Homo sapiens: one gene and its partners. The protein of the gene in region 1 purifies or fractionates together with the protein of each later gene. This does not show direct contact. Each region holds a gene or a part of one and is shown on either strand. Other genes may lie near its edges. The genes, in order: ACOT13, DBT, ATIC, TSPAN3, ZMYM2, NUP214 and ECI2.

Region 1 (4,309 bases):
GGGAAAGAAATCTTAAATGAAAAACGCATCTCATTGTAGGCATTTTTGCCTCATATTTTACTGGGCCATGTTTGTTTCCTGGTACTCATGTATTTTTTTTTTCCAGATCTCTTTCCCCAAGTTGCTATTGTAAGAGTATTCTGCTGCGTGTGGATGCAGTTATACACATTAAAGCAGATCTGGAGTCTGAAGTAGCTATAAAGCAGCTATAAAACAGAAATACATGCATAGCTGCAGAAACCATGATAGGTAGAGGACTTTTCTTTTGGTTTTGTTTTGTTTTGTTTTGTTTTGTTTTTGGTTTTACAGAGAAGAGATTTTTATTACAAAGAAAAAAATTCCAGTGAATTGTGCAGAAATGCTGGTTTTTACACCATCCTAAAGAAAAACTTTACAAGGGTGTTTTGGAGTAGAAAAAAGGTTATAAAGTTGGAATCTTAAATTGTAAAATTAACCATTGAGTGTCAAAGTTCTAAAAGCAGAACTCATTTTGTGCAATGAACATAAGGAAAGACTACTGTATAGGTTTTTTTTTTTTTCTCCTTTTAAATGAAGAAAAGCTTTGCTTAAGGGTTGCATACTTTTATTGGAGTAAATCTGAATGATCCTACTCCTTTGGAGTAAAACTAGTGCTTACCAGTTTCCAATTGTATTTAGCTTCTGGTTGGAATTTGAAAAAAAAAGAAAAAAAGAAAAAGAAAACCTAAATAAAATAGGTGAAAGTTCCCTGACTATTCAGGTGAATACACAAAGTTTGAAGTGTTAACTTTTTCTTTCCATTTCACTGATGTTACTGGTCACCTTAGAGAATTATTTCATAGTCTGTGGCTAAATAGTAAATTCAGAAGAAAAATACCTGGCAATTGAGTGTGTAACTTCAACAAGAACAGGAATCAAGAACATACTGTCAGCTTTCAACAGTTAGCAACCTGGCCTTATGCCTTGCTTCATGGGAAAGGGCCATTCTTAAATTTCAAAATGCTTTCATGTGTCCTCTTATTTAAAAATTAGAATCTATTTGAAATAACATTTTGAATGTTTATTATAACCAGGTACTCTTCTAAGCTCTTGTCTTAACCTCTCAACCTTTGGTGGAAATAGATGCAGAGGTTAAGTAACTTGCTCAAGCTCAGATCATAAGTAGTGGAGGATTTAAAACCAGGCTGGCTGGCTCTTAAGGCCTATGCTCTTAATTTACCATGTTGAATTAATTTACCATATTGAATTACACTTATGTTCACCAAGTTAGGCATTTTGGCAGCCATTGTTTACGTTTTTATTTTGGAATAATTTAGAAAAGTTACCAGAGTAATATGAAAGCTGTTGTGTAATCTTTACCCTCATTTTTATTATTTTGCCACATTTTTTTCATTTTCTCTGTACACTTATACCTGTGAGCTATTTGAGTTTGTTGCACACTTTGTGCTTCCTTACCCCTTCCTTAGTACTTCGGCATATGTTCCAAGTACAAGAATATTTCATATAACTAGAGTAAAATTACCAAACTCAGGGAATGTTGATACTCTTTATCATCCATATTCGTTTTGTTGTCCCAGTATCCTTGGTAGCTTGTTTTAGATCCCCCCCTCTAGAGTACAGGATCATTGAATTTAGTTGTTCTCAGTTGTCTTTAATGTGGAACAGTTCCTTAGCCTTTATGTGTTCCATGACCTCTATGTTTTTTGGAGTACAGGGCAATTTTTCTTGTAAATTGTTACTCATTTTGCATTTGAATTGTTTATTCATGCTTAACGCCCTTCTCAAGTATACTCTCCATCTGCTCTTCATTGATGTTACTTTTGAGCGCCTGGTCAAGGTGTCCTGGTTTTGCCCTATGTGTGGTACTTACTACTAGCAATCTCTGGGAAGCAATGTGCAAATACCCTGTTCCTTTATCAGGAGCTCCCTTGGCGATTCTTTCCAGACTAAAACCCAAACCAGTCTTTAACTATGATGGTTACAAAATAGTGATTTTCCAAATCTAATGCTTTGTCCATTTACAGCATTTGTTGTAAGAGAGTGTTCTATCTCTGCCATTTATTATCTACCTAAACACTATGGCCTCATATTTTTTCCCTCCAAATCATAATTTGCATGCCTTTATTATTTTGAGCATCTCCTTTCATGCATAAGATACTGTAACCTTTCTGTCCCAGCCTCAAGCCCTGGAGTCAGCTGTTTCTCCAAGGAGCCCAGCTTCCTTTTAGTGGGAAATACTAGAAGTAAACATCTGGGACTCCTGTATGCTCACTGCTGCTATTGCTACTGTGGAGTCTTCTGCCCTTTCACAGTGGACAGATCAGCAGGCGATCTAATGTAGGGAAAGGATTTGTCTTTAACTGTTAACTTGACTTAAATTTACTTAAAGCTGCATCCTTTTTAGTCTTTAGTCATGAAATGTTCATTAAGATTCCCTGACAGAAATCAAGTAAGAGTCAGCTGGGTGCAGTGGTTCACACCTGTAAGTCCAGTACTTGGGGGGCCAAGGCAGGAGGATTGCTTGAGCCTAGGAGTTTGAGACGAGGCTGGGCAACAGTGAGACCTTGTTTCTACAAAAATAAAATTAGGCGTGGTGGCACACGCCTGTAGTTCCAGCTACTCAGGAGACTGAGGTGGAAGAATGTCTTGAGCCTGGGATTTTGAGGCTATGGGAAGCTGTGATTGTATCACTCCAGCCTGAGTGACAGAAGCTGTCTCAGAGTGCCACAGTCAACTGAACTTGGAGACTTCTGAGAAGTGAACTTGGTCTTTTCAATACTATAGACTTGGAGGTTTGAGATCTGCATGGTTTTATTCTCGGTACAAGAAAAGGGGCTAGTAGCATGCTTTTTTTCTTCCCCCTCTATTGGACCATTTCCTGTAACACTAACATGCTTAGCCTCAAACTTTTCTTGAGGTCTTTTTTAGGCATATGGCTCAATCTATTTTATTTTTCAATATGGGCTGTAGTTCATATATTTTGAAGTTTCATAATCTTAAAAAAAGGAAATGCAAGTGTAGCTTGGCATTTTAGATCTGGGAAGGACCTAAGATTCGCTAAGGATTGGCCATTGCTGTGGTCTCCATGTGTTTCCCCTAAATTTGTATGTTAAAATCCCAACCCCCAAGGTGATATTAGCAGGTGGGGGTCTTTGGGAAGTTATTAGATCACGAGGGCAGAACCCTCAAGATTGGAGTAAGTGCCCTTACAAAAGAGAACCCAGGCTGGGCACATTGGCTCACACCTGTAATCCCAGCACTTTGGGGGGCCAAGGCAGGCGGATCACCTGAGGTCACGAGTTCGAGACCAGCCTGGCCAACATGGTGAACCCTGTTTCTACAAAAAACTACAAAAATTAGCTAGGTGTGATGGCACATGCCTATAGTCCCAGCTACTTGGGAGGCTGAGGCAGGAGAATCACTTGAACCCAGGGGGCAGAGATTGCAGTGAGCCGAGATCGTGCTGCTGTACTCCAGCCTGGGCAACAGAGCGAGACTCCATTTCAAAAACGAGAACCCAGAGGGCTCACTTGCCCCTTCCACCACACAGTGAGAAGGCACCATCTATGAGCCAGGAAGCGGGCCCTCACCTAACAGGATCTGCTGGGCCTTGACCCAGGACTTTCCAGCTTCTAGAACCATGAAAAATTTCTGTTGTTCCTAGCAGCCCAAACAGAATTAGAACCATTAATTTCTATTTCTCCTTTAGCTTAACACTGGACTTTAGTTTTAATCTTAACTGAGAGTGGTCCTGCTAGTTTCTTTGCTTTACCTGTTTTTAAAACACTTTGAGCTAAGAATTTTTCACCCAATTATCACACATGATTAGAAAACAAGATGCTTAAAGTGAAAAAAGACACCCCCACCTTTACCCTACTTGATATCCAGGTCCTTTTCCTCCAAGAATATTTCTAGCTGCTTCTGGTTTTGCTAGTTTATTTCAAAAATTACAATTGTTTGAGTCAAATCTATACTTGATATTCATTGTTGGGTTTCTTTAGGTCATTCTGCTGTTCTCTCAGTTTCCCAGGTGTTTTGTGTGTCTTCCTTGTGCTATTAATTTTCCTGTGGCCTTGTTGGTCAGATCCACAGAGGTAAATGCAAGTGTTTTTCCTTGCTTCAGAACATGTGCTGTAATCACTATATCTTCTCCTAATTTTGCAGGTGACATGTACCTTGAAAGAAAATGAATATAGTTAACAGCAGATAATTTTTCAAAGGGAAAGTTGTGTGCATCTCACAACAGTGTTCCTATGTAACTTATTTTACTCCTAAAAATAGTTTTAACGGTAGTATTGGTAAGCTTTCTGTACTATCAAATGTGAATGGC
Region 2 (4,309 bases), on another chromosome or scaffold:
AAAAGAAAAAAAAAAAACTTTGTGGCCGGGCACAGTGGCTCACGCCTGTAATCCCGGCACTTTGGGAGGCCGAGGCGGGCGGATCACGAGGTCAGGAGATGGAGACCATCCTGGCTAACACAGTGAAACCCCATCTGTACGAAAAATACAAAAAGAAATTAGCCAGGCGTAGTGGCAGCCTCCTGCAGTACCACCTACTCAGGAGGCTGAAGCAGGAGAATGGCATGAACCCAGGAGGCAGAGTTTGCAGTGAGCCGAGATCGCAGCACTGCACTCCAGCCTGGGCCACAGAGCAAGACTCTGTCTCCAAAACAAAAACAAAAAAAAACAAATCCAACTTTGTTTCATGCACAAAAATGTTAAAAATATTGTATAAAATTACCTTTAGGCTATGTGTATGAGGGGTAAATGAAACATAAGTGAATTTCATGTTTGCACTTGAGTCCTGTCCTCAAGATATCTCCTTTGTATATGCAAATATTCCATAATCCAAAAAAATCTTAAATCCAAAAACGCTTCTGGTCCCAAGCATTTCAGGTAACGGATACTTAAACTGTAGAGACTTTCTGGAGAACATATGACAACATGAACCAACATTTATAAAAATTCGTGTTAAGGAACTAAGTGCAGAAGTATGTAGGGATACACAGGGATGTTGAGTACACACTGTTTATAAGTTTGAGAAACTGCAAATAATCATGATGTTTATAAATAGGTCACTGGCTAAATAAATAACAAAGCTATACTTGTTGACAATGATGTCTACAATATAGTAAATGAAAATGAAGAGGCTGGGCACAGTGGCTCATGCCTGTAACCCAGCACTTTGGGAGGCTGAGGTGGGTGGATCACTTGAGCCCAGGAGTTAGAGACCAGCCTGGGCAACATGGCAAGACCCCATTTCTACAAAAAAAAAAAAAAAGTACAAAAATTAGCTGGGCATGGTGGCACGTGCCTATAGTCCCAGCTACTCAGAAGGCTGCGGTGGGAGGTGGACACTGCAGTGAGGCGATGATTACACCACAGCATAGATATTCTCTATGGGGAATACTTTAGATAGGCAACAGAGCAAGACTCTGTATCAAAAAAAAAAAAAAAAGAAAAAGAAAAAAGCAAGTTAAAGAAAATATAAATAATTCTATATCTTGTAAAAAGTATGTAAAAATGAAATCCTAGAAAGATGTATATCTCAACATAAACAGTGAGCTATCTTAGGGTCATGGAATTGAGGGTAAACATCTTTGTTTTCTTTTTTCTTTTCTTTTCTTTTCTTTTTTTTTTTTTGACAAAGGCAGGGTTTCACTTTGTCACCTAGGCTGGAGTGCAGTGGCATGATCACAACTCACTGCAACCTCCATCTCCCAGGTATCATATGATTCTCCTGCCTCAGCCTCCCAAGCAGCTAAAACTATAGGCATGCACCACCATGCCTGGCTAATTTTTTTTTTCTGTAGAGATGGGGCCTCCTAACTTTGTTGCCCATGCTGGTCTTGAATTCCTAGGCTCAAGCCATCCTCCTACCTCTGTCCCCCAAAGTGCTGGGATTACAGGCAGGAGCCACCACACCCGGCCAACATCATTTTCTTGCCTGAAATTTTTTTAATAAGTATATACTTAATCAGGAGATATTAAAATTAAAATTAATACAGCTGACTGTATTAACCGTATGGGAGCTGACCTCCCAGAATATCTAAGCTCACTTTCTGGTTGTACATGTCTTTTCTTTTTTTTCTTTTTTTAATTCTCTTTTTGAAATGGAGTTTTGCTCTTGTCGCCCACGCTGGAGTGCAGTGGCACAATCTTGGCTCACTGCAACCTCCGCCTCCTGGGTTCAAGCAATTCTCCCACCTCAGCCTCCTGAGTAGTTGGGACTATAGGCGCTGGCCACCACGGCTGGCTAATTTTTGTATTTTTAGTAGAGACAGGGTTTCACCATGTTGGCCAGGCTGGTCTCAAACTCCTGACCTCACATGATCCACCCGCCTCAGCCTCCCAAAGTGCTGGGATTATAGGCGTGAGCCACCGTGCCCAGCCTCTGGTTGTGCACTTCTAATGATAAGTAAACTTCAGGAAAGGCATCTCAAAAAGAGTTTTCGGTCTTAAGAAACTTTCACTACTCACAGAAGAGTTTACTCAAATTGAATTCAAACTTTTATTATTTTTCTCACTTAAATTATTCTTAATATTAAAATTCCAGGAATTTGCCAGGCACAGTGGTTCATGCCTGTAATCCCAGCACTTTGGGAGGCTGAGGCAGGAGGATTGCTTAGACCAGAAGTTCAAGACCAGCCTGGGCAACATAATGAGACCACGTCTCTACAAAAAATTTAAAAATTAGTTGGGCATAGTGGCGCATGCCTATAGTCCCAGCTACACAGGAGGCTGGGGCAGAAGGATTGCTTGGGCCTGAGAGGTTGAGGCTGCAGTGAGCCACAATCACAACACTGCATTCCAAACTGGTGACAGAGTGAGACTCTGCCAATAATAATAATAATAATAAGAAGAAGAAGAAGAAGAAGAATAAGAATAATAATATTAAAATTCCAGGAATTCAATTTTGAAAGAGCTGCTTCTTTTTGAGAGGGTAAGTAGAGTGGGTAACATAATCTGCCATACAGCTATGTATTTCCATTATTTTAAGCAGGAAAAAAAAAAGCTTAAAAATAGTTTTAAGAATCTCTAAACAGTATTATTAACACAAAAACAACAACAATGAATTAGACTTAAGTTTAATGTTTTACCCCATACCTTTAATTCTAGTCTAAAAAAGATCACTATTTGAGGTACAATAGAAGTCTCTAATCTACAAGCACATTTGCCCCATCTTCTATTAATAATAAGAACATTTTTACTCTGCATAGCCAACCTTATATGTTATATTCTGGCAGTTTTCATCCACAGAAGCGTTAAGGATAGGAAACTGTAGTAATCCCAAGGAAGCAGCCTGTTTAACAGAAAAAGAATGCAATTTTAGTACTTTTAACTTAGAAAGGATAGAGAATTTGAAACAATAAGAGGTATAAAAGGAGGGAGAGAGAGAACTCTTATTTATGCTGAGTTTAATTTCAAGTCTACATGTACCTAGTCACATTACTGCCAATGTTACCTTCAGGCCATGTGGAACTAGGTCACCCTAATCATTAAAGAATAAAAGATAAAGTAGTCAGGTAGCTTGTAAACATCAAGGAGATTTTCAAAATAATGATACAGACCAGCCAAAGTTCCAAAGAAAATGTCTAAATTCTAGGTGATTTCCTCACTGACATGTTGATCTTAAGATTTCCATGAGAAGTAATACTAGGAATCAAAACACAAAAAAAGCAGGTAAGCTATTTCTCTGTGTGGAAAGAACACGTAACGAGGATTTCAAAGCGCACTGACCAGTAGATGCCAGTTTGCTACTTGGTGTCCTTGGCCAGCTGAAGGGCAGAGATGTCCTGAACATTTACTTTACAGCTCAAGTCTCACTGAATAGCATTTATATTTTCCCTCTCTGCTGCCTTCTCCCTTTTGTCACTTAATACCATTTCTCTCCTGTCCATATTCAGATTTCCCTAACTGTACCCAAAATGTTCTTGATAATCTGTTTTTGGGATCTAATAATCAAGTTTCATACCTTACATGTGGTGGCCATGCATTGTATTGAATTTAAAAGATAGCAAAATAAAAATGCTTAAGATCATTCTTAAAAAGAATTCCCTCCCCCACTGCCCTTGTCTGGTCCCTGTTAAAGTTCTTTACATGCATTGTGTTATTCTTCTCAGTGCATCGGGGTCTTGATGGGAAAAAAATCAAATTCTTGAACTAGAGAGTTAAGAAAAAAGTTTAAATATATAGAGACATTTCATTTTCATTAGTTAGGACAGGTTAAGAGAGTAGATCAACTGAAGAAAAATATAATTAAAAGAACTGCTACGAGTTCCTTAATTTTTATGACTTGGAAGTTTTTCTTGTTTGTTTTTGAGACAGGGTCTTTCTTTGTCACCTAGGCTGCAGTGCAGTGGCATGATCTCAGCTCACTGTAGCCTCAACGTCCTTGGCTCGAGTGACCCTCCTGCCTCAGCCTCCCGAGTAGCTGGAACTATAGGCGTGTGCCACCATGCCCAGGTAACTTTTGTATTTTTTGTAGAGATGGGGTTTCACCATGTTGCCCAGGCTGGTCTTGAACTCCTGAGCTCAAGCAATCTGCCTGCCTTGGCCTCCTAAAGTGTTGGGATTACAGTCGTGAGACACTGCGCCCAGCCAACTTGAAAGTTTTAGTAAGCATTTGATTCAATAACTGTAATTTTAATAGTCTTTATCTAAAAAC
Region 3 (4,309 bases), on another chromosome or scaffold:
TAAGAAAGCTACTCTCATCTCAAAACCCCAAGTTAATAGTATTTTTTTAAATGCAGGATTGGGGAAAATAAACTATAATAAGGATAAACTAGAAGGGTATGAGTATAAAGGAAAGAGTAAACAAGGGAGAAAGAGACACAGAATAAAAGAGCAAATTACCGCTTCAAACATGAATTGCACTCACCTGAAGGACACAATAGTTTCCATTTTTCTTTTTGGAAAGTATTGTCAAGGCTTCTTCTTCATATCCTGGGGCAATTATACCATCAGATACCTGCAAAAATATTAAATTTTAATTTCTATTTTTAAAAATCAGAGAACACCTCTTAAAAAAATCTAGCAGCAATTATCAGTCTTAAATAATGTGGCAGCATATTCTGGTTTCTGCCTCCAACAAACAATGCTAACGCTATACTTGAAAAGAGAAATCTATTAGAATACAGCTTTCTGTATAGCAGATCCTAACTTTCTGTCCTCTCCAAGTTTTTGTTCGTTTCAGTTTAAACTAAGAAAATATGACTGATTTGCTCTTAACACATGTACCTCAGGAGGAAATATTTCTTCAGGGAGTGTTTTGAATGAGCAAGAGCACATTCTAGTCCTGACTCTCCTAGTACATGGTTAAATGACCTCTTCCGGCAAGGCGTTTTCCTTAACAGCAAGACCAGATTAAATCAGAGATTTGACATGACGAAAGATACAAATGTCACAGCCCTCCTGTAACCTGTAACCCAGGGATGGCAGTGGCCATGGAAAGAATCCTAAAGCAACAAAATAGTGCCAAGCCACATGCTCCTTCAGCCTTCACCTCTGCTTATTTTTTTCCCCTTTCTGAGCTATTTAATCTTTTTCTCTTTTCTTCCTGTCTTCCTACTACCAACAGTACCCCCACCTGTCTGGAATACCTGTTTGGTATTCAACTGATGGGGTAAGTTTATTAATGTAGTTTCTGTTTTTTACCCACTATGCAGTAAGATGGATTATATCGCATCACCACCTAAAATTACAACTTCTGCTCTTCAGAAACAGTAACTTTGGCATGAAGACAACAAAGAATTTAAAATAAATATATAAGTAAAAAACATCATAACAGCCAAATATCCATCTGAAACAATAATTCACTACATTTCAAAATTAACAATTTAAGATTAATGTTCTATTTAAAATATGAACATTAAATGATAAACTTAGCTAATTAAAAGATATTATAAATATAAATATTATAGGTTATGGTTTCAATTAACATTATGAACAAATAAAGCTTTATTCAACACACAGATTAAGATACATGAATGTCCACTAACTTCTCTGGAAATAATTTTTGCAGTTGGTACATCACAAACATCGGACAATGCAACAAAATCACCAAATGAAGACATCCTATCAGCCCCTGTAAATAAAATTAAAATGAGGTATTTATCACAAAGTATCCTGATACAGAAAAAGTAATAAAATTCTCCACTGTCATATAAAATTCATTACTCTAAAGCTAATCTTACTGTTTACATAAGATTTTAACAGATCAATAAGTCATTTAACTGAAGTAACCAGTAAGAAAGTATTCTTTAATTTTACCCTCTAGAGTGACACTCAGAAAACTTTTTCTGTGAAGGACCAATTTATATATACTATATTCACAAAAACAGGGTGGCAGGCTGGATTCAGCTGAAGTTGCTGACCACTGCTGTAGATGATAAACTATGGTAATAGTTTCTCAAGAACTTTCAGAAATACTAAAGGGATATTCATGGGTTATTAAATTCAACAAGTAAATGTCTCTGATAAAACATGACTCTAACCAAATGTAGTAAAGTTAGAAGAGCCATAAATCACGCCTGTAATCCCAGCCCTCTGGGAGGCTGAGGCAGGTGAATCACTTGAGGTCAGGAGCTCAAGACCAGCCTGGCCAACATGGTGAAACCATGTCTCTACTAAAAATACAAAAAAATTAGCCAGGTGTGGTGGCACGCACCTGTAATCCCAGCTACTCAGGACGCTGAGGCAGGAGAATCGCTTGAACCCAGGAGGTGGAGGTTGCAGTGAGCTGAGATGGCGCCACTGCACTCCAGCCTGGGCAACAGAGCAAGAAGCTGTCTCAAAAAAAAAAAAAAAAAAAAAAGAATAGCTTTTTGTAATTTCAATTTTGGTCACATATTAAACAATAACAAATGCATTCAATAGCCTAAATTAGCAAAATTACATTGACCAAATTCCAATTGTGTTTCCATTTATTACACTAAAATACTAACAAATACTTTTTTTTTTTTGAGACGGAGTATCGCTCTGTCACCCAGGCTGGAGTGCACTGGCGCTATCTTGGCTCACTGCAAGTTCCACCTGCCGGGTTCACACCATTCTCCTGCCTCAGCCTCCTGAGTACCTGGGACTACAGGTACCCCCCACCACGCCCAGCTAATTTTTTGTATTTTTAGTAGAGACGGGGTTTCACCGTGTTAGCCAGGATGGTCTCGATCTCCTGACCTCGTGATCTGCCCGCCTCAGCCTCCCAAAGTCCTGGTACTACAGGCGTGAGACATTGCGCCCGGCCTAAAATACTAACATACACTTTTATAAAGAAATGTATTTTGAGGTACTCACAGAATCAATCTCAAATATTAATAAAACAAATTAAATAGGAAATCCTATAATGAAACAAAGGGTATTTTACTTTAATCAAACTATATTATATAGAATAACTGTATATTTACATAGAGATAGAAGTCCTTAATTTCATCTATATATTATACAGAATATCTATATATTTTTTCTTTATTCTATCCTCTTTATTCTATTTAGGATAAAATATTGCTTTTTCTTTCTCCCCCAAATCAAAAAGCCCTATGAGTCTGACCTCTTGCTCTTGCATATGCCGCTGAGATGGGTGTGAGGGTTTTATAGAGATCATAAACCATGCAGACTTTGGCCTCATCTTCACTGAGTGGAATTCCAACAGCAGCACCTGGTTAGAAAATAGTAAAATCATAAACAAAGAAAGCTAAAGTTACTACCTGTCAACTCCTAAATCAAGACAGTTTTCTTAACACCCAGTCTACGCAGCACATTTTCTAGTGCCTGTGCTAAATTAAACAGAAATCTATTTAGCCAGATAATTATACACTAAAAATATGGTTGTGGGAGCAGTGTGAGGGAAATCTCCTCTCTGCCCTCCAAAACCACAGAGCCACTGAAGCCTGACAGTACCCAGCGTGTAGGTGAAGCTCGTTTACTTCATTACTGACTCACTCTTTCTCTCTGTTCTGCTTGATATCACTTTGATATCACACATCATTTATTTCTTCCCCACTCACATCACTTTAACACCCAATAAACACCTGAGAACAAATCATGTGCTGGAGGACTGTCAGCAAGATGTGGTGTACAGACAACTCAATTGCGGAGTTCATGATTTAAACACAGAAGCAAAGTATCTCATACAACGACTATAAGAAGTTTCAGATAAAGAGTCCAAAGAAGAACTTCTTTATGTTTACTCCATTACATTTTCAAAGATGTGGCACAAGACTTAGTCTATTGCATTAGGACATTTCACTTTTATTTTCTAAACTTTTATGGTTCCACCCCACAAACAAATTCCTGCCTCATTTTCCTGACAATATTACACAATTCTGTGTGTGTGTGTGTATCAGATTTTATATTATTACATTGATACTGTTATCAACAGATGACTTTCAGATTTCATAGCATGTCTATATTCACATTAGAACTTGTTAATATTCAAAAAAATTTAAGAAGAAATGCCTTTCGAACAATTCTGGAGCTTTCCAGAGCACAGAGCTTTACCTGCTGGGCTGACATGTTTGAAAGAGGCAGCGGCTGGAATACCTAAAGCCTCCTTGAGTTCCTTCACCAGCTGCCAGGCGTTCAAAGCATCGCACAAGTTTATAAATCCAGGGGCTCCATTTAGAACTAAATGTAAAAATATACATGCACATTACTAAGCAGGATCAGTAAGGTCAGATGTATGCACACTTCTCAAAAAAATAACATGACTAAACAAATGTTTTAAGTATAATTAAGAGCCAAACAGATACACACAAACATAAAATCTTGATGATAAAGAACAAAGCAACTGAGCCTGAGCCCATCTTTAAAAAAAATGCACATGTACATGAACACACACACACACACACACACACACACACACACACACACACACGACTGGAGGACCAGAACCAGCCAGTCTAGAAATAAATCCACAATAAGAGATTTAGGGATGGGAGAAACTATGACAAGACTAGTGATCAGTCAGGAATTCATGTAAATACAGAACTAAGATTAAACAATTGAG
Region 4 (4,309 bases), on another chromosome or scaffold:
GTAAATATATGTACTGTTATTCCAGTGAAGAAAGTTATTTTGAACTTCAGTGGTGCTTTTCATAGCGGGTTATTGCCAAGACTGAAGTGGTAATGTTTAGTAAAAATATGCTTTATCTTGGTTAGTAGGGTAGTAAAGTTTTTGTGAGCTGTGATAAGGAAGTTAAGCAGATACGCTGGGGGCAAATGTGTCACAGTGCAATGTAGCTAATGAGGAAACAGCATTAGGTATGTCTCCCAAGAAAGTATTAGTTTGTGGACTAACTGTGGGAATCTGATGATGATGGGTAATGGCAACTAACATTTGAGTTACTATACCCCAGGCACTGTGCTAAACACTTTACATGGCATATCCTCACAGCTTTCCCATCTAGCAGGGAATATTAGGTACATTTTAGAGGAGAACATTAAGGTTGACTGAGCCAAAGTAGCACACCCAAGGTGTGATACAGCCTGCGTTCAAACCCAGGTTGTCCCATACTCTAGAGACTGTGATGTTAGGACAAAGTGTGATTTCAGAAGATTTGTAAAGAGAAGAAAGTTGTTAGAATCACTTCTCTAAAGCATGCTGATTTTGAGATTGCTAAAATTAGAAACTGTACCAGAATTTACATGACACTTTGTTTGGTTTTGAATTAAGTCATTATGAGGAAGTACATTAAAAAATGTTAAAAGGTTCTTCCTGGGAATTTGTAATGCATTCTTCAGTTCTAATAAATGTATTCTTATATGCTGGCCCCTCCCTCCTTTTAATGCCTTGAGATGATGAATAAGTGGAAGAATAAACATACTCTCCATAGAGCTTATCAAATGTTTACCTAGGTTCCCTTGGGCAACTGTAGGCAATAAAAACTATGTTGCATTGGCTCTTCACTGTCAGATGGTAATGGCTGATTGTTAACAAGGGTCAAAGTTTAATTGCTTTGGCAAGACCTTTAAACTACACTTTCTTATGTCTTGATATCCTGATTCTGCTGGCATTTTGTTCATTGAACTGTGACATGGAGATAGATATATACCTGAAATACTCAGGCTGTAAATTATCTGACAGCTAAAATCGTTACTGTTGATTTGGTGTAGATAGTTTGGAACAATGCTGTAATAATGTTACTGTGGAAAGGCACAAACCAAAAGCAGAAACAATCATTTCTAAAATCCTGAAATTTGTCTTAATGGAAATAGGGAACTCCTGCTATGGTTAGAATGTTTGTCCTTTATAAAACTCATGTTGAAACTGAATCCCCAATGTGGCCGTATTGAGAGATGGGGCCTTTAAGAGGTGATTGGGTCATGAGGGCTCTACCCTCATGAATGGATTAATCCATTCATGGATTAATGGATTAATGGGTTTTCATGGGAATGGGACTGGTGGCTTTATAAGAAGAGGCAGAGAGACGTGAGCCAGCATACTCAGCCCCCTCACCACGTGTGATGTCCTGGGCCACCTCAGGACTTTGCAGAAGGCCCTGACCAGCTACGGCCCCTTGACCTTGAACTTCTCAGCCTCCATGTATGTAAAAAAATTTCTTAAATTACCCAGTTTCAGGTATTCTGTTCTAAGCAACAGAAAACAGACTAAGACAGTTTCTCACCAAATTCTAGAATATTAAGATTTGTAGCTTGAAAGATAATCTTGGACAAGTGAAAGGATGTACAGCTTGGATCATCTTGGATCTCTGTTTTTATGGAATGATGAGGCTTTAAATATAAGTGTATTCATGCTGGACCCATGAGGATTTATTGAAGAAGGTTAGAAGTGTTTTAGGTAAATGACTAAATTTTAAAGGCTTTTTTTTTTTTTTTTTTTTTTTTTTTTTGAGACGAAGTCTTACTCTGTCGCCCAGGCTGGAGTGCAGTGGTGCGATCTTGGCTGACTGCAGCCTCTGTCTCCCGGGTTCAAGCGATCTTCCTGCCTCAGCCTCCCGAGTAGCTGGGACTACAGGCGTGCGCCACCATGCCCAGCTAATTTTCGTATTTTTTTAACAGAGACAGGGTTTCACCATATTGGCCAGGCTGGTCTCGAACTCCTGACCTCTTGATCCATCTGCCTTGGTCTCCCAAAGTGCTAGGATTACAGGCGTGAGCCACCGCGCCCAGCAAAGGCTATTGTATTAAATAGGCATTAGCCTATTCTGTAAACTGCACCTTTGTACCAAGGTCAGACAGGATTTTTAGTTTGGTAAGTCATTTAATCTGACCAAAGAGGGCTCGTCTAAAACAAGTTTAAATCAGTACTTCCTACCATTAAGTTTTTATTCCGGTAAATTAATTGATTATTTAATCAAGTCCTATGTTATACAAATTACCTTTACTTTTTTTTTAAACCCTATTAGAAAAACTAATTGGCTAATACTTATTTTGCTCATATTTATCTTAGGCATTACAGGGACTGGAACAGAAAGCTTTGTCCATGCTTATAGAATTTATAATCTTAAATATCTATTTAGGTTGTTGTTTTTCATCTGAGAGGTGATAGTATAAAACTGAGACACCTGTAGAGTGGGGGAAGTACCGCAAAAAAGTCAAACGCCTTTTAAATAAATGCCTTTAGAAATAGCTTTGGAACGTGGCACCTTCACTAACCATCATTCATTCATATGAAATACTTCACACATATAAATTGTAGTTGAAAGCCATATGTAACCTTTAAAACTTATCCTGCCTTTAAAAATAAAACTTATCAGCCAGGTGCGGTGGCTCATGCCTGTAATCCCAGCACTTTGGGACGCCAAGGGTGGCAGATCACCCTCCTGACTAACACGGTGAAACCCCGTCTCTACTAAAAATACAAAAAATTAGCCAGATGTGGTGGTGGGCACTTGTAGTCCCAGCTACTCGGGAGGCTGAGGCAGGAGCATGGCGTGAACCCGGGAGGCGGAGCTTGTAGTGAGCGGCGATCGAGCCACTGCACTCCAGCCTGGGCGACAGAGCGAGACTCCATCTCAAAATAAATAAATAAATAAAACTTATCACGCTTATGTCTGTGAATGTATATAATTAAGGAAAATTTGCTTTGTTAAATATAACACTACTATTTGAGCACCTACTTTGTGCTTATATTGTTGATAAATGATGAAAAGACAGTGAAAAATCCCTATTCTTACAGAACTTACTTTCCGGTGAAGCAAGACACACAAAAATAAACAAGAAAAATGATCAGAGTGATGTGTTATGCAGAGAATTAAAGGGTGATGTGATAAAGTGATTGGGTCGTGCTTTATGTTGGCAAAAAAAATCTGGAGTATAAGAAGTTGCTGACTTGGGTGATTTGGAAGAGATTGGGAGACTGGGGGGATTCAGAACTGAAGGAACAGGCTGTAGGCTGTAAGGCAAAAATATACTTGCTATGTTCAAATTACTAAGAGGTTTATACCGTCATGCTTTTGTTTAAAAAATAAAACTTTATAATGAGGTATTTCAAGTGTGGTTCTCCCTTGTCACAAATCTTGTACATACTTTGTGTTTTCCAGCACATCCTACACATTCGAGGTGGTAATATGATACTTTTAAACCGGAACCTGCATCTGATATCCTGGAATTTGTTTCTCTACTTCCTGTATTTCTCCTATCATGAATGACTGCTCTGACAAAGAATATGTCATGGGACACACCTTCAGCTAACTTTGCTTTTTCATGCTTGTTTTCAATTCACTAGAAGAAAATCTAACTTGTCAGGAAGCAAGTACATAATAGGAAGTGTCTGTCTTAGTTTGTCTTCAACAGTTAAGAAAATGAATGTTTCCACTCTTACTACATTCTTAGTCACCTGTCCACTGACCAAGAGCCTTGTGGCCCTGAGTAATCATTTAGAACTTGGAATCAGCAGGGGCGCTCTCTCTAGTTGCAGTTTAGGGAATGGGTTATTAGCTTTCTAGGATATTTATCATGCTTTGAAATAATTTAATGAATTTTATTCCATAAGATCCAATTCAGGTTAGGCTTGTTTGATTTTTTTTTTCAGAAAATGTATTCCATAAAGTTTGTACTTAGACCAGACGGGTGTACTAAGAATCATTCATGAGTAAATGTGTGTTGAATATCTACCCTTGACCTTTTTTTGAGAAATAGAGTAAACACAGTCCCTGTAGTCTGACAGCTAATGGGGAGAGAGGGTAGACTTTTCATCGAATTAAATTTCTACATGCACCTTTCCCCCAGAAATCTTACTCATGGCTGGTCTCAAGTAAGTCTTTATTGAAAAATATTGACATATCTTCTTCCTCTTCCTTCTCCTCACTGTCTTCCTTTTAGTAGTTAGGCAGAGTTAATAGGTAAGAAAAATTATCTGCATTTATGTGTAGTTTGTAATC
Region 5 (3,500 bases), on another chromosome or scaffold:
TTTGTTTTTTGAGACAGAGTCTCAGTCTGTCGCCCAGGCTGGAGTGCAGTGGTGCAATCTCTGCTCACTGCAACCTCCGCCTCCCAGGTTCAACAAATTATCGTGCCTCAGCCTCCCGAGCAGCTGGCATGCACCACCATGCCCCACTAATTTTTGTATTTTAGTTGAGATGGGGTTTCACCATGTTGGCCAGGCTGGTCTCAAACTCCTGACCTCAGATGATCCGTCCACCTTGACCTCCCAAAATGCTGAGATTACAGGCTTGAGCCACCGCAACCAGCCCTGGCTAGTTTTTTTTTTATCTTTAGTAGAGACAAGGTCTTGCTCTGTTGCCCAGAGGCTGGTCTGAAACTCCTGAGCTCAAGTGATCCTCCTGCCTTGGTCTCCCAAAGTGCTGGGATGACAGGCATGAGCCACCATGCTTGGCACCAGCTCTTGTTTTAAATTATAGATTTTCTAAGCAGTCTTCAATAATCAGACATTACTCGACAAATAAGAAAAATAACTAGCAATTCATATAGCATTCTACATTGCCTAGATTTTAGTTACTTCACATTATTCTCCACAATCCCTAGGATAATGAGCCTAAAATGATGACAGAATGGGTCAGAGAGAGGCATGTGAGAGAGAAACGCCGATAGACACACACACACAGAGGAATTGGGGGAGAGGTTAAAGAGAGAGAGAGACATCCACAGACATGTCATGAAAAAGTCACAGAGTTTGTTTTGTTTTTGAGACAGGGTCTCACTTTGTCACCCAGGCTGGAATACAGTGGTGCAATCCTGGCTCACTGCAACCTCTGCCTATGGGGCTCAAGGAATCCTCCCACCTCAGCCCCCCAAGTAGCTGGGACCACAGGTGTGCACCACTATGCCTAGCTAACTTTTCATATTTTCAGTATTTTGTATTTTTTCACCACGTTGTCCAGGCTGGCACAGAGTTCTTATCACTTCCATATTTTAAAGTTTTCACAGAACAAGGCTGCTCACAGAAAACAATTTCAAATAGTCAAGAAAACTATCAACCTTCAAAAAAAAAGGTGGGGGGCTGGGTACAGTGGCTCACACCTGTAATCCCAGAACTTTGAGAGGCCAAGGCAGATGGATCACTTGAGGCCACGAGTTCAAGACCAATCTGGCCAACATGGTGAAACCCCGTCTCTACTAAAAATACAAAAATTAGCTGGGTATGGTGGCACACATTTATAATTCCAGCTACTAGGGAGGCAGAGGCTGCAGTCAGCCGAGATTGCACCACTGCACTCCAGCCTGGGCGATACAGCAAGACTCTGTCAATAAACAAATAAATAAGAAAAAAAAGTATTGCTTATTTATGCCCTTGAAAAATAAAAATAATTTTTAAAAATTTTTTAGTAGTAAAATGCTAACTAAAAGCTAAAGATACGTGGTCAAAAATAAACACGGCATTATCGAGTTGTAGACATTAAATATATACAGCCTTTTGCATGTCAATCATAACTTTAAAGTAGTTTTAGAAAAGAAAAAAAGGATGATATGTTTGGCTTTCTTCAAATGTGAGAAAAATAAAACCTTAGCCAACTCTTAATAAAAAATAAAATGGCTGGGCATGGTGGCTCATACCTAGAATCCCAGTACTTTAGGAGGCCAAGGCAGAAGGAATGTTTGAGCCCAGGAGTATAAGACCAGCCTGGGCAACACAGTAAGACTCCGTCTCTACAAATAATTTTTTTTTTTTTTTTTAATTTAGCCAGGCATGGTGGCTCACACCTGTGGTCCCAGCTACTCTGGAGGCTGCGATGGAAGGATCACCTGAGCTCAAGAAGTCGAGGTTGCAGTGAGCTGAGATTGTGCCACTCTACTCCACTCTGGGCGACAGAGAGAGACCCTGTCCCAAAAAATTAACTAATTAATTAAATTAAATAAGCACAGGGAAAGTAGAAATAAATCTAAATGCGGCCAGGTGCAGTGACTCACGCCTGTAATCCCAGCATTTTGGGAGGCTGAGGTGGGCAGATCACCTGAGGTCAGGAGTTTGAGACCAGCCTGGCCTGGCCAACATGATAAAACCCCATACAAAATACAAAAATTAGCCATGCGTGGTGGTGGACGCCTATAATCCCAGCTGCTTGAAAGGCTGAGGGAGGAGAATCGCTTGAACACAGGAGGCGGAGATTGCAGTGAGCCAAGATTGCGCCACTGCACTCCAGCCTGGGTGACAGAGCAAGACTCCATCTCAAAAAAAAATCTAAATGCAACTACTGTACAATATTACACTGTTCTTTAAGTGTGCTATTATATTAATCTTTTGGTTCTCTAATTTATATACTAAAACACTAGTAAAAATTCTATTAGCAAAAAGTAATGCATGACAAACAAGATATTAAATTATCACACTTCATTCTTTTGTTTGTTTTGCTTTTTAAATTTAGAGATGGCGTCTCGCTATGTGGCCTAGACTGGTCTCGAACTCCTGGGCTCAAGCAATCCACCCACCTTGGCCTCCCAAAGTGCTGGGATTACAGGTGTGAGCCGCCGTGCCCGGCCAAATTATCAGACTTTGGTGATGAATGTAAAGAGTATTTTTTTCTTAAATCCTTTAAATATAAAACTACTTTATGATTAACTTTTTAGTAATCCACAGAAAAATACTATACATGGTTTTACAATTCTTATTAAAATACCAAACTTAAGATAAAATTCAATATAATTCACATATTTCACATGATGAAACTAAACAAGGTAATACCAGTTACTACAATGAAAAAAGCAGCAGCCAAAAGTTTAAATTCATTTACATGAAGTAGAGTATCTCTTACTGCTTACCAGGATTATGATGAGTTGCAGATTCTCCATTCTGAAAAACGTCTCCTGCCACATTCATTCTACCAGGATTAAAAGGTCCTACTCCAGTCTTGGTCTGTGAAGTTAAAGATGGGGTGTATGTTTGTATATTAACACCAAAATTACTTGACTGCAGTCCGTTAGAGACATCTCCCAAGTTGGTATTCTGCAGTGATGTTACATGTGTAATCATTAAGTTCATATCTCGCCCGTCAGTATTTTCTAATTGGCCATCATTCACAGAGCTTACACCTGTTTCTAAAGTTGTAACATTAGCAATCTGAATTTCAGAGTCTGGTTCTGTGGTGATACCACTATTACCCATTCCTGCATTTACCTTACTTCTTGAAAAACTGGAAGTGGAGAAATCCACATCATTGGTTCTGTTTTTAGTCTCAGGAGGTCTTCGTTCAATAAAATTGGAGGAATTTTTCTCTTGCCCTTGATTTGTTTCCATGTCCTCTTCATCATCAATGACAATTGTCTCACTTACACTTCCCTTCTGAGATGCCAACTCTTTTGAGGAAGGAGTAATTTTGGAATCATTTCCTTGTAGTTCTTCATTTTTTGATGATGTAAATGTTATGGTTCTTTGATCAGCTACCACTGGTACAGAAGGTGGGGGAGGTTGTACAGGTTCGATAAAAACAACATCATCATCATCTTCCACTGACG
Region 6 (4,309 bases), on another chromosome or scaffold:
TTACCTGAAGCTTGGCAAAAGCTGAACCCAGAGGTTGCTGCTGTTGTGGTGGCAGCTGAGGTACCACCAAAGACAGAGCCTCCCTGTCCAAAGCCAGGACTCTGCCCAAAAGCAGGAGCGTTGCTTTGGCCAAACAGCCCCCCTCCTGTGTTGGGAGAAGACTGTCCAAATGAGAAGGAACTGGAGCTACTGGTACTTGAGGCGGCACCAAAGACACTTCCACTGGTGGATGTGGGAGTGGAGGAAGCAGGCTGACCGAAGGCAGGCACGGAACTGAACCCAGGCTGACTGAAGGAAAAGACACTTGCAGCACTGCTCGCCGACTGCCCAAAGACTGAGGCCTGCCCGAAGGTTGTCTGTCCAAAGACCCCTGGGGCTGTGGTACCAAAAGCTGGGCTGCTAAACCCTGAGCTGCTGACCTGTGGTGTGGCAGCTGCTGTGCTGGCTGTGCTACCAGTCTGCTGCCCAAACAGACTTGGTGCGGTGCTGGCTGCCACTTGCCCAAACACGGGCGTGGCAGAGGGGGCAGTGGCTGTGTTGTTGGTGAGCTGGTTGAAAGCTGAGCTAGAACTGGCAGCAGGAGGCTGAGCAAAGACGGATGAGCCAGAAGTGACGGTACCAAATGCTGCTGCCTCTGCAGATGGGCCGGGAGCAACAATGGACGTGGTGCTGGAGGCTATGGGGGTACTTGATGTTTCGACGGCCACAGGGCCTGCACTTGAGATAGCAGCTGCTGTGACAGCAGTCTGCCCAGGCACAGAAAAGGAGGAAGCAGGTGGTACTGCCTCCGTCCTGGCATCAGGGACCCCCGTGGTGGCTGGGGTAGCCTCTGCAGAAAGTGCTACAAGACTAGTACTAGATGCTGCAGTGCCAGAGTTGCTGACTGCAGGCTGGGCAAGAACAGGTTCTTTTTTAACAGAGTCAGAAGTTTGCGGAGGAGCCTGGGGAAGCTGGGCTGACTGTTGCTCCTCTAGAAGTGAGGCTGCTGATGCTGAGACCTCACTGTCACCTGGCTTCTCAGGCAAAGCTGATGAAGTGGCCTCTTCTGTGCTTCTGCCAGCGGACATAGGCAGGGAGGGGGTAGTTGCTGAACTCAGGAGGCTACCAAATGACAATGTGGGGAATGATGTTGGAAGGGGAGTGGCAGCTGTAGTTGGTGGTGGGGCAGATGGGGGCACTGTGCTATTGGTCTGTTGGCTTCCAAATGAAAAACTAGTCTTGCCAGCACTTAGAGATGTCCCACCAAAACTGATGACCCCAGAGGATCCTGCACTGGTGACTGGCAGACTGCCAAAAACGGCAGTTGAGGAAGTGCTGGTGGCTGCTGGTGGTGCTACTGAGGTGGTGGTTGCAGAGGATGTCACAGGGGGCTCCGTGTGCTTCCCTAACACCGGGGGGGCAGTAAAATTAAACCCTGAGGGCACGCCTGACGTCTTGGTTGGCTGGGTACTAGTTAGGCTTGTGGATGAAGCCTTATTGGTTGGTTTTGTAGAATCATCTGCTTGGCCAACCCGCAGTCCTGAAAAACTTCCCAGAGTCTCTCCAGCCAAAGAACTTGGAAACAGAAGCTCTCCCAGCTTGGACGGTGGGGTTTCCAGCTTACTAGAGGTGGTGGAAAGAGCAGTTCCAGAAGGTGCCACAGGTCTGCTGCTAGATGCGGCAGGTTCTCCTGGGGTGGTGTTTGATGCGGATGTGATTCCTGAGGGAGGTGAGCTTTCAGGAATGGCCTCATAAGAAGGTTTGCTTCCCCCACCAGATGAGAATGCGTCCGGCTGGCTTGACTCTTTAGTGGAGGGTGTTGCCCCTAGCAAGAAAAAGAAATCAGAAAATGGGTTGGATTTAGCAAAAGATGACCCATTACATTTCCACTGATTGTGTTTCTAAGCCAAAGTTTCTCTCCTCCCTCTACAGAGTCAGGGTGCCTTGTTCTCACAGCAGCTTTCTCTAAGGAGGTGGAATGAGTGCTTCTCCACACAAACATCAGCTCTGAGTCGTCTGAGGTGAAAAGGAAAAAATACTTTTTTTATGACCATTAAATCACAACAAATACAAAATATCTAGAATATGTGAAATTAACATATTATCCCAAAGAGAAATAAAAAAGCCTCTTCCCTTAATTTACCCTAGCTGTGTGCTTTCCTTAATAACATCCTCAGCACAGCAATGGCCTGTGGACCTCCTGATAGACCAGGACTTGATTCAAAATGGAAGTTCTTCCTTCATTTTTATGAGCAAATAAAGTGTCAGTCCACAGAAAATCATTTTTATGTACAATTAATGGCTACTTATTAGTGCTCTACTAAGTCAGCTATTTGACAGAGGCAGTACGGTCTGGTGGTCAAGGACATGGGCTCTGGAGCTATGCACTCTGCCACTCGCTGGTTGTGTGAATCTGGAAAGGTTGCTTTACCTCTCTGAGCCTCAATTCCCCCATTTGGAAAATCTAGATCATTACAATACCTACCTTCATTGTGCTGTTACAAAGATCGCAGGAAATATGGGTAAAGCACCCATAAGGCCTGGTCAAACAACAGTGGTTAATAAATACAAGAGTAACGAGGCCGGGCGTGGTGGCTCACACCTGTAATCCCAGCACTTTGGGAGGCCAAGGCACGTGGATCACGAGGTCAGGAGTTCGAGACCAGCCTGATCAATCAACATGGTGAAACCCTGTCTCTACTAAAAATACAAAAATTAGCTGGATGTGGTGGTGGGCGCCTGTAATCCCAGCTACTAGGGAGGCTGAGGCAGGAGAATCGCTGGAACCCAGCAGGTGGGGGTTGCAGTGAACTGCAATTGCGCCATTACACTCCAGCCTGGATGACAACAGTGAGACTCCATCTCAAAATAAATAAATAAAATAAAAGACTTAATCATAAACGGATAACTGAAAGGCACTTAACAAATAGATCTGGTTTCTTTATAGGGCTTCAAATTCTTTTAAATGTTAAAAACATGCTATTGATGGATTTTTTGGCGCGGGGGGGGGGGGGGACACACAGAGTTTCACTCTTGTTGCCCAGGCTGGAGTGCAATGGCACAATCTTGGCTCACTGCAACCTTGCCTCCCAGGTTCAAGCAATTCTCCTGCCTCAGCCTCCTGAGTAGCTGGGATTATAGGTATGCGCCACCACGGCTGGCTAATTTTGTATTTTTAGTAGACACGGGGTTTCTCCATGTTGGTCAGGCTGGTCTTGAACTCCTGACCTCAGGTGATCCGCCTGCCTCGGCCTCCCAAAGTGCTGGGATTATAGGCGTGAGCCACCGCGCCCAGTCTATTGATGGATTTTTAACAACATGCATGGGATGAGTGTGTTTGCTGGTATGTTATCAAGGAAAAAAACGAGTTTGGTCTTTCATTTCTACAGTCTATCTATTACCATGTCTATCTTGCCCTACAGAATCACCCTATAAATTGAAGAAATTTTAAATTACAGACAAAAAATGGAGAAATTTTAATTCACATGTTAACATTTAAATGTTAAAGCACAGCCCTGATTTTCTAGAAGCAAATCCTTTCCTTGTCCTTAATTATAAAAATAGAAATCCTTCACATCAGTTTCTTAAATTAAGCATATTTCTAATGCACATTATCAACACTGAGCTTATTGCAGATACTGTAAGTAAGATTCAGGAACAAGTCAAATACTAACATGTGGGCAAAAATAACCTGTACTTATTTAGAGAAAACACATGAGTAATGCTACTCAACACAGAGTCTGTACCTTGTGCAGCAGTGAAATTAGAAGACGGTGTTGGTGTGATTATCCCAAAATTAAAGCCAGTCCTAACAAGTGGAAAAAGAGAAATTAAAAAGGAACAAACCAAGGCACAATATTGCCCTCTTAATATTCCATTTTATCATTCATTCATACAAACCGCCCTCAGGAATTTACAATCTAGAAGATAAATGACAACAGAGTCAAAGCACCTATCTCAGAAGCAGTAAGGCCACTCTATGATCTCTAAGCAGAGAAGCAGTTTGTGTGTGAGATACGACAGGGATAGCAGTTGAGAGCCCATTGGGGGATGGCTGGGCTTTCTGTAGCAGAAGTTTGAGTGGGGACTTCTTGCAAGATGAGCAAAGCTGCAGCAGTAGAGACACATGACAAATGTGCATGTGGGAATGGTGGCCGGAGCAGATGGTCTGTTAAGTGAGGGGACAGAAGGAAGGTCTGGTAAGACAGAAGCACTTAAGACTAGGGAGAGCCTCTCAGAACCCCTCCAAGACCAACAAGCATGTCAGAGAGCCCCACACTGCTAGGGAAAACAATGGATACAATGAAATAGAAGCCCTAACTCAGTCATT
Region 7 (4,309 bases), about 21 Mb from region 1:
GCCCCAGTGGTTTTTTTGGTTGGCTTTAACTACTGGAATTAATTCAATATTGGTTATTTAGTATATAGTCATTTTTAGTTTTTTTTTTTTTTACATTTAAGACATATTTTTGTGTTTCTTAATGAATAAATTATGAAAGAATGTTAATTTAAAATTCATAATATGTAAAAGAATATTTAGATTTCATTTCCTATAATCAGACACGCTGTTGTTTTTACTATATAACTGTTAGAAGATATAAATCTATAACATATGCAGCATATACATAAAAATAATCACAATATTTTTAAAAGTTTCTGTTAATGTCATGTATCTTCTTTTTTTATCCAAAAGAAAACTTATTCAAAAAAATGTACCCAGAAGACACAGCCTAAGGAATACAAGCAGGAAACTGAGAAACCTGCCAACAACAGCTAAAGGGACACAAACAGGTACATGCAAAGTTGCCAGTAAGCAGCATTTAAAATGCTGATTTTCAGAAAGAGAGCAGCAGGTGGAGTTAAGGGTTTAGGCTCTGGCGTCAGACTACTTAGGGACGTTGGGAAAGTTTCTTACCCTCTCTGTACCACAGTTTTCTCATTTGTAAAATGGGAACCAATCCTTCTTTGCTTTTTTTTTTTTTTGAGACGGAGTCTTGCTCGGTTGCCCAGCCTTGAGTGCAGTGGCGCAATCTCAACTCGCTGCAACCTCCGCCTCCCGGGTTCAAGCGATTCTCCTGCCTCAGCCTCCCGAGCAGTTGGGATTATAGGCGTGCACCACCACACCCAGCTCATTTTTGTATTTTTAGTAGAGACGGGGCTTCACCATGTTGGCCAGGCTGGTCTCGAATTCCTGACCTCAAGTGATCCACCTGCCTTGGCCTCCCAAAGTGCTAAGATTACAGGCATGAGCCACCATGCCCAGCCTAGATTGTAAAACTTATTTTTGCCACATTGGAGGAGAATGTTTGTTTTTATAGACAGGGTCTCACTCTGTTGCCCAGCCTTACTCTTGCCTCAGCCTACCAAGTAGCTGGGACTACAGGCGCCTGCCACCACACCTGGCTAATTTTTGTATTTTTAGTAGAGAAGGGGTTTCACCACATTGGCCAGGCTGGTCTTGAACTCCCGACCTCAGGTGATCCACTTGCCCTGGCCTCCCAAAGTGCCAGGATTAGAGGCGTGAGCCACTGTGCCTGGCCAAGTCCTTCTTTCATCGGGCTACTCTGTACATTACGTGAATATGTGTGTGTGTATGCGTATATTTATAATATACATAATGCATGTGAATAGAGTGCCTAAACAGTGACCACTCAAAGATTTATTATTGTTATGATTTCTACCTTTTTCTTAACTCATACAGGAAATGTATCATTTGCTGACAGAGCTAATAGGCATTATTAACCATTGCCCACAGTATAAAATAGATTAAATGTACTGATTAATATTTTGGTTATATGGGTTAAATATTAACCCATCATTTAATATGATATTTATTCTTGAAGCCAATAATGGTAAATCTTATAAAACAATTTTTTCTACAGCCTTTTCCTTTAGCATATTTCCTTTATTTTATTTATTTTTTACTTATATATTTTTTTGAGACAGAGTCTCGCTCTGTCACCTAGGCTGGAGTGCAGTGGTACGATCTCGGCTCACTGCAACCTCTACCTCCTGGGTTCAAGCAATTCTCCTGCCTCAGCCTCCAATGTAGCTGGGATTACAGACACCCGCCACCAAGCCCGGCTAATTTTTATATTTTTAGTAGAGATGGTGTTTCACCATGTTGGCCAGGCTGGTCTTGAACTCCTGACCTCAGGTGATCTGCCCACCTCAATTTCCTTTATTTTAAATGATGCTTGATTTGTTTGGTTGGGTAAACTTTTATCAGAAGACACTATTTGACAAATAAATTTTACTTTTGGCCAAATTTTTTAGCATTTAATATATATATGCAATATACATATATTATAATATATATAGAATAGATATGTTTTATATGTATTATGTATATATGTTTTCTGATTTCAACATTTATTACAATTTATATCATAAGATGGAAGTCATCAACATTTTTAAAAGGTTGATGCAGGCCAGGCTCAGTGGCTCACACCTGTACTCCCAGCACTTCAGGAGGCCAACGCAGGCGAATCACTTGAGGTCAGGAGTTCGAGACCAGCCTGGCCGACACAGTGAAACCCTGTCTCTACTAAAAATACAAAAAAATTAGCTCGATGTGGTGGCACGCACCTGTACTACTCAGGAGGCTGAGTGGGAGAATCGCTTGAACCCGGGAGGTGGTGGCTGCAGTGAGCCAAGATCGTGCCACTGCATTCCAGCTTGGGTGACAGAGTGAGACTCCCATCTCTTAAAAAAAAAAAAATAAGGATGATGTATATTGAAAGTAATTTTCAATTCAGTGGGAGAATCAGAACAAGATTCAAATACAATATTTGCCCTCCAAGTATTAAAGAATGAGATCCCCAATTTTAGGTCAGGAACCATTGACCCAGTCCCTGTTAAAAGCAGGTCAATGACTAATCAGTCATCTAATACACAGACTGTGAACAAAGACATTGATTTCTGCCTTTGAACAGAAACCTCTACCTACAAAGGCTGGGCAGCCTGGCACCTAGAATCTCATTTGCTAATTTTGTGGGAAAATTATTCATAAGAATTAGGTCTGTCAATACATCCAATCTGGTTCAATGGAATCCAGCAAAAGAAAATTCGAAGAATTAAGGATGCTATTATATGGTCCTGTCTATCAGTGGGGAAAATACCTCTGAACAAAACTAGAAATCTCTTCAGTGGTAAAAACCATATGCTCCCTAGAAGGCTGCAATCATCAGCACAGTTTACCATCACATAAGCATAAGTCACTGGACAATCTGATACCCTAAAGGTGGTTATTAGGTGCTTGTAATGATAAAAATTGGAAACAGCCTAGGGTTCCAGCAGTCAGGGACTGGTTAAACAAGATAAGTTAATAACCCAAACGTTAGGACTGGTTATCTCTAGGTGGCAAGATAAGGAGTGATTTTTACCTTGTAGCTTTTCTTGGTACTTTTTCATATCTTTCAAAATTTTATTTTCCACTATGACATATATATTACTACTGTAGTAAAAATAAAAACTAAAATCTGTATAATGCAATGGTGAACACAAGGCTGAATTGTGTTCTGGGCAAGGAACTTCTCAGAGCTTCAGTTTTCTTATCTGCAAAGGAGGGAGTGACAGTAGATAATGCTCACAGGTCCTTCTCCTTCTAAAATTCTAAATCCATTTACTCAGTAAAAAGGATCAACTAATCCCTTGCACAACCTGCAAAGATGCTATTCCTCCCTCCCATAACAAATTTTCAAGTGTCTCCTGAATCTTTCAGAATAACATGAAAGCTGTATACCTATTGTGGAATTTGATTAGAATCCGGAACAGTCAGAGTTGGAACAATGTTCACAACAAAATGCAAGTTAATAATGAAGGAAAAATAAAATCAGTCAAATCAGCCTAATGCTTTGGGAAAAATCTAAATTCAGTTAATTCTACCACAAACAACATGTAACCTGCTTATGACTGGCAACGCTGAAGGAGGATTCAAAGGCTCTCATCTCGCGCTGCTTGCCTGACCTCTTGCTTTCTAGGAGCTGACTTACCCTGTCAGATGCATACACGGCATCGAATAGCCCAAGGAGGGTGACGGAGATGCCCACAGCTGGACCATTGACCACTGCAATCAGAGGCTTAGGAAAATCTATAAAACAGCCCACAAATTCCCTACAGAAATGGAAACACAAAATCATTAAATGTGCCAAAGCAGCATGACTAAAGCATGGGCAAGACAGTCTGACTCTGAGATAAAGCCTTCTGTCAGGCTGGGTGTTTCCACAGCCACCACCAGCAGTGCCTCCTTGTCCTGCCACTTCCCTGGTCTTCCGCACCAGATTCATCCAGGGCATCCGTCTGAATGGCAGTGGATGGAAGACCAACCAGTGAGACCTATGGGTCAACCCTGGTTTGAATCTTGTATTCTGGACAGTGAGTTCAGGGCTGTAAACCAGCCGCAGTCTTAGAGATTAGGTTGGGTGACTGAGCACATGCTGCAATATCACAACAAGTGGGAATTACAGATTTGGCAGGAATAAAGAGAAAAGCCTTCATGACCTCCTCCTGTGTTTACAAGACTCCTCCGAGTCTCCTACCTTCAGCGTTCATGGAAATCTCCCATTCCTCTGGCTGGATGAGAATTTGCTAAATTCCTCTGCCTCAGTGCAAGATAATTTTGTTTACAACTATAGCTCACTTTTATGTTTTCCAGTCAAATCTCATGA

What was found.
Region 2: the proteins of ACOT13 (region 1) and DBT purify together in Homo sapiens (affinity purification with mass spectrometry; one large-scale study listed by BioGRID and IntAct). This does not show direct contact.
Region 3: the proteins of ACOT13 (region 1) and ATIC fractionate together in Homo sapiens (co-fractionation; one large-scale study listed by BioGRID). This does not show direct contact.
Region 4: the proteins of ACOT13 (region 1) and TSPAN3 fractionate together in Homo sapiens (co-fractionation; one large-scale study listed by BioGRID). This does not show direct contact.
Region 5: the proteins of ACOT13 (region 1) and ZMYM2 purify together in Homo sapiens (affinity purification with mass spectrometry; one large-scale study listed by BioGRID and IntAct). This does not show direct contact.
Region 6: the proteins of ACOT13 (region 1) and NUP214 fractionate together in Homo sapiens (co-fractionation; one large-scale study listed by BioGRID). This does not show direct contact.
Region 7: the proteins of ACOT13 (region 1) and ECI2 fractionate together in Homo sapiens (co-fractionation; one large-scale study listed by BioGRID). This does not show direct contact.

What each region holds. Positions count from the first base shown.
Region 1 is NC_000006.12:24,701,304-24,705,612, reverse strand, and holds the end of ACOT13 (acyl-coenzyme A thioesterase 13), read right to left. Parts: intron 4,155-4,309; coding exon 3,998-4,154; 3' UTR 567-3,997; downstream 1-566. UniProt on the Homo sapiens protein: Catalyzes the hydrolysis of acyl-CoAs into free fatty acids and coenzyme A (CoASH), regulating their respective intracellular levels. Has acyl-CoA thioesterase activity towards medium (C12) and long-chain (C18) fatty acyl-CoA substrates.
Region 2 is NC_000001.11:100,207,828-100,212,136, forward strand, and holds part of DBT (lipoamide acyltransferase component of branched-chain alpha-keto acid dehydrogenase complex, mitochondrial isoform 1 precursor), read right to left. Parts: intron 3,298-4,309; exon of another isoform or gene 3,213-3,297; intron 2,945-3,212; coding exon 2,867-2,944; exon of another isoform or gene 2,866-2,866; intron 1-2,865. UniProt on the Homo sapiens protein: The branched-chain alpha-keto dehydrogenase complex catalyzes the overall conversion of alpha-keto acids to acyl-CoA and CO(2).
Region 3 is NC_000002.12:215,332,000-215,336,308, reverse strand, and holds part of ATIC (bifunctional purine biosynthesis protein ATIC), read right to left. Parts: intron 3,928-4,309; coding exon 3,802-3,927; intron 2,960-3,801; coding exon 2,852-2,959; intron 1,391-2,851; coding exon 1,305-1,390; intron 275-1,304; coding exon 185-274; intron 1-184. UniProt on the Homo sapiens protein: Bifunctional enzyme that catalyzes the last two steps of purine biosynthesis.
Region 4 is NC_000015.10:77,064,079-77,068,387, reverse strand, and holds part of TSPAN3 (tetraspanin-3), read left to right. Parts: intron 1-4,309. UniProt on the Homo sapiens protein: Regulates the proliferation and migration of oligodendrocytes, a process essential for normal myelination and repair.
Region 5 is NC_000013.11:19,993,227-19,996,726, reverse strand, and holds part of ZMYM2 (zinc finger MYM-type protein 2), read right to left. Parts: coding exon 2,808-3,500; intron 1-2,807. UniProt on the Homo sapiens protein: Involved in the negative regulation of transcription.
Region 6 is NC_000009.12:131,194,711-131,199,019, reverse strand, and holds part of NUP214 (nuclear pore complex protein Nup214), read right to left. Parts: intron 3,788-4,309; coding exon 3,726-3,787; intron 1,805-3,725; coding exon 5-1,804; intron 1-4. UniProt on the Homo sapiens protein: Part of the nuclear pore complex. Has a critical role in nucleocytoplasmic transport.
Region 7 is NC_000006.12:4,121,616-4,125,924, forward strand, and holds part of ECI2 (enoyl-CoA delta isomerase 2), read right to left. Parts: exon of another isoform or gene 3,756-4,309; coding exon 3,635-3,755; exon of another isoform or gene 3,345-3,634; intron 432-3,344; exon of another isoform or gene 334-431; intron 1-333. UniProt on the Homo sapiens protein: Able to isomerize both 3-cis and 3-trans double bonds into the 2-trans form in a range of enoyl-CoA species. Has a preference for 3-trans substrates.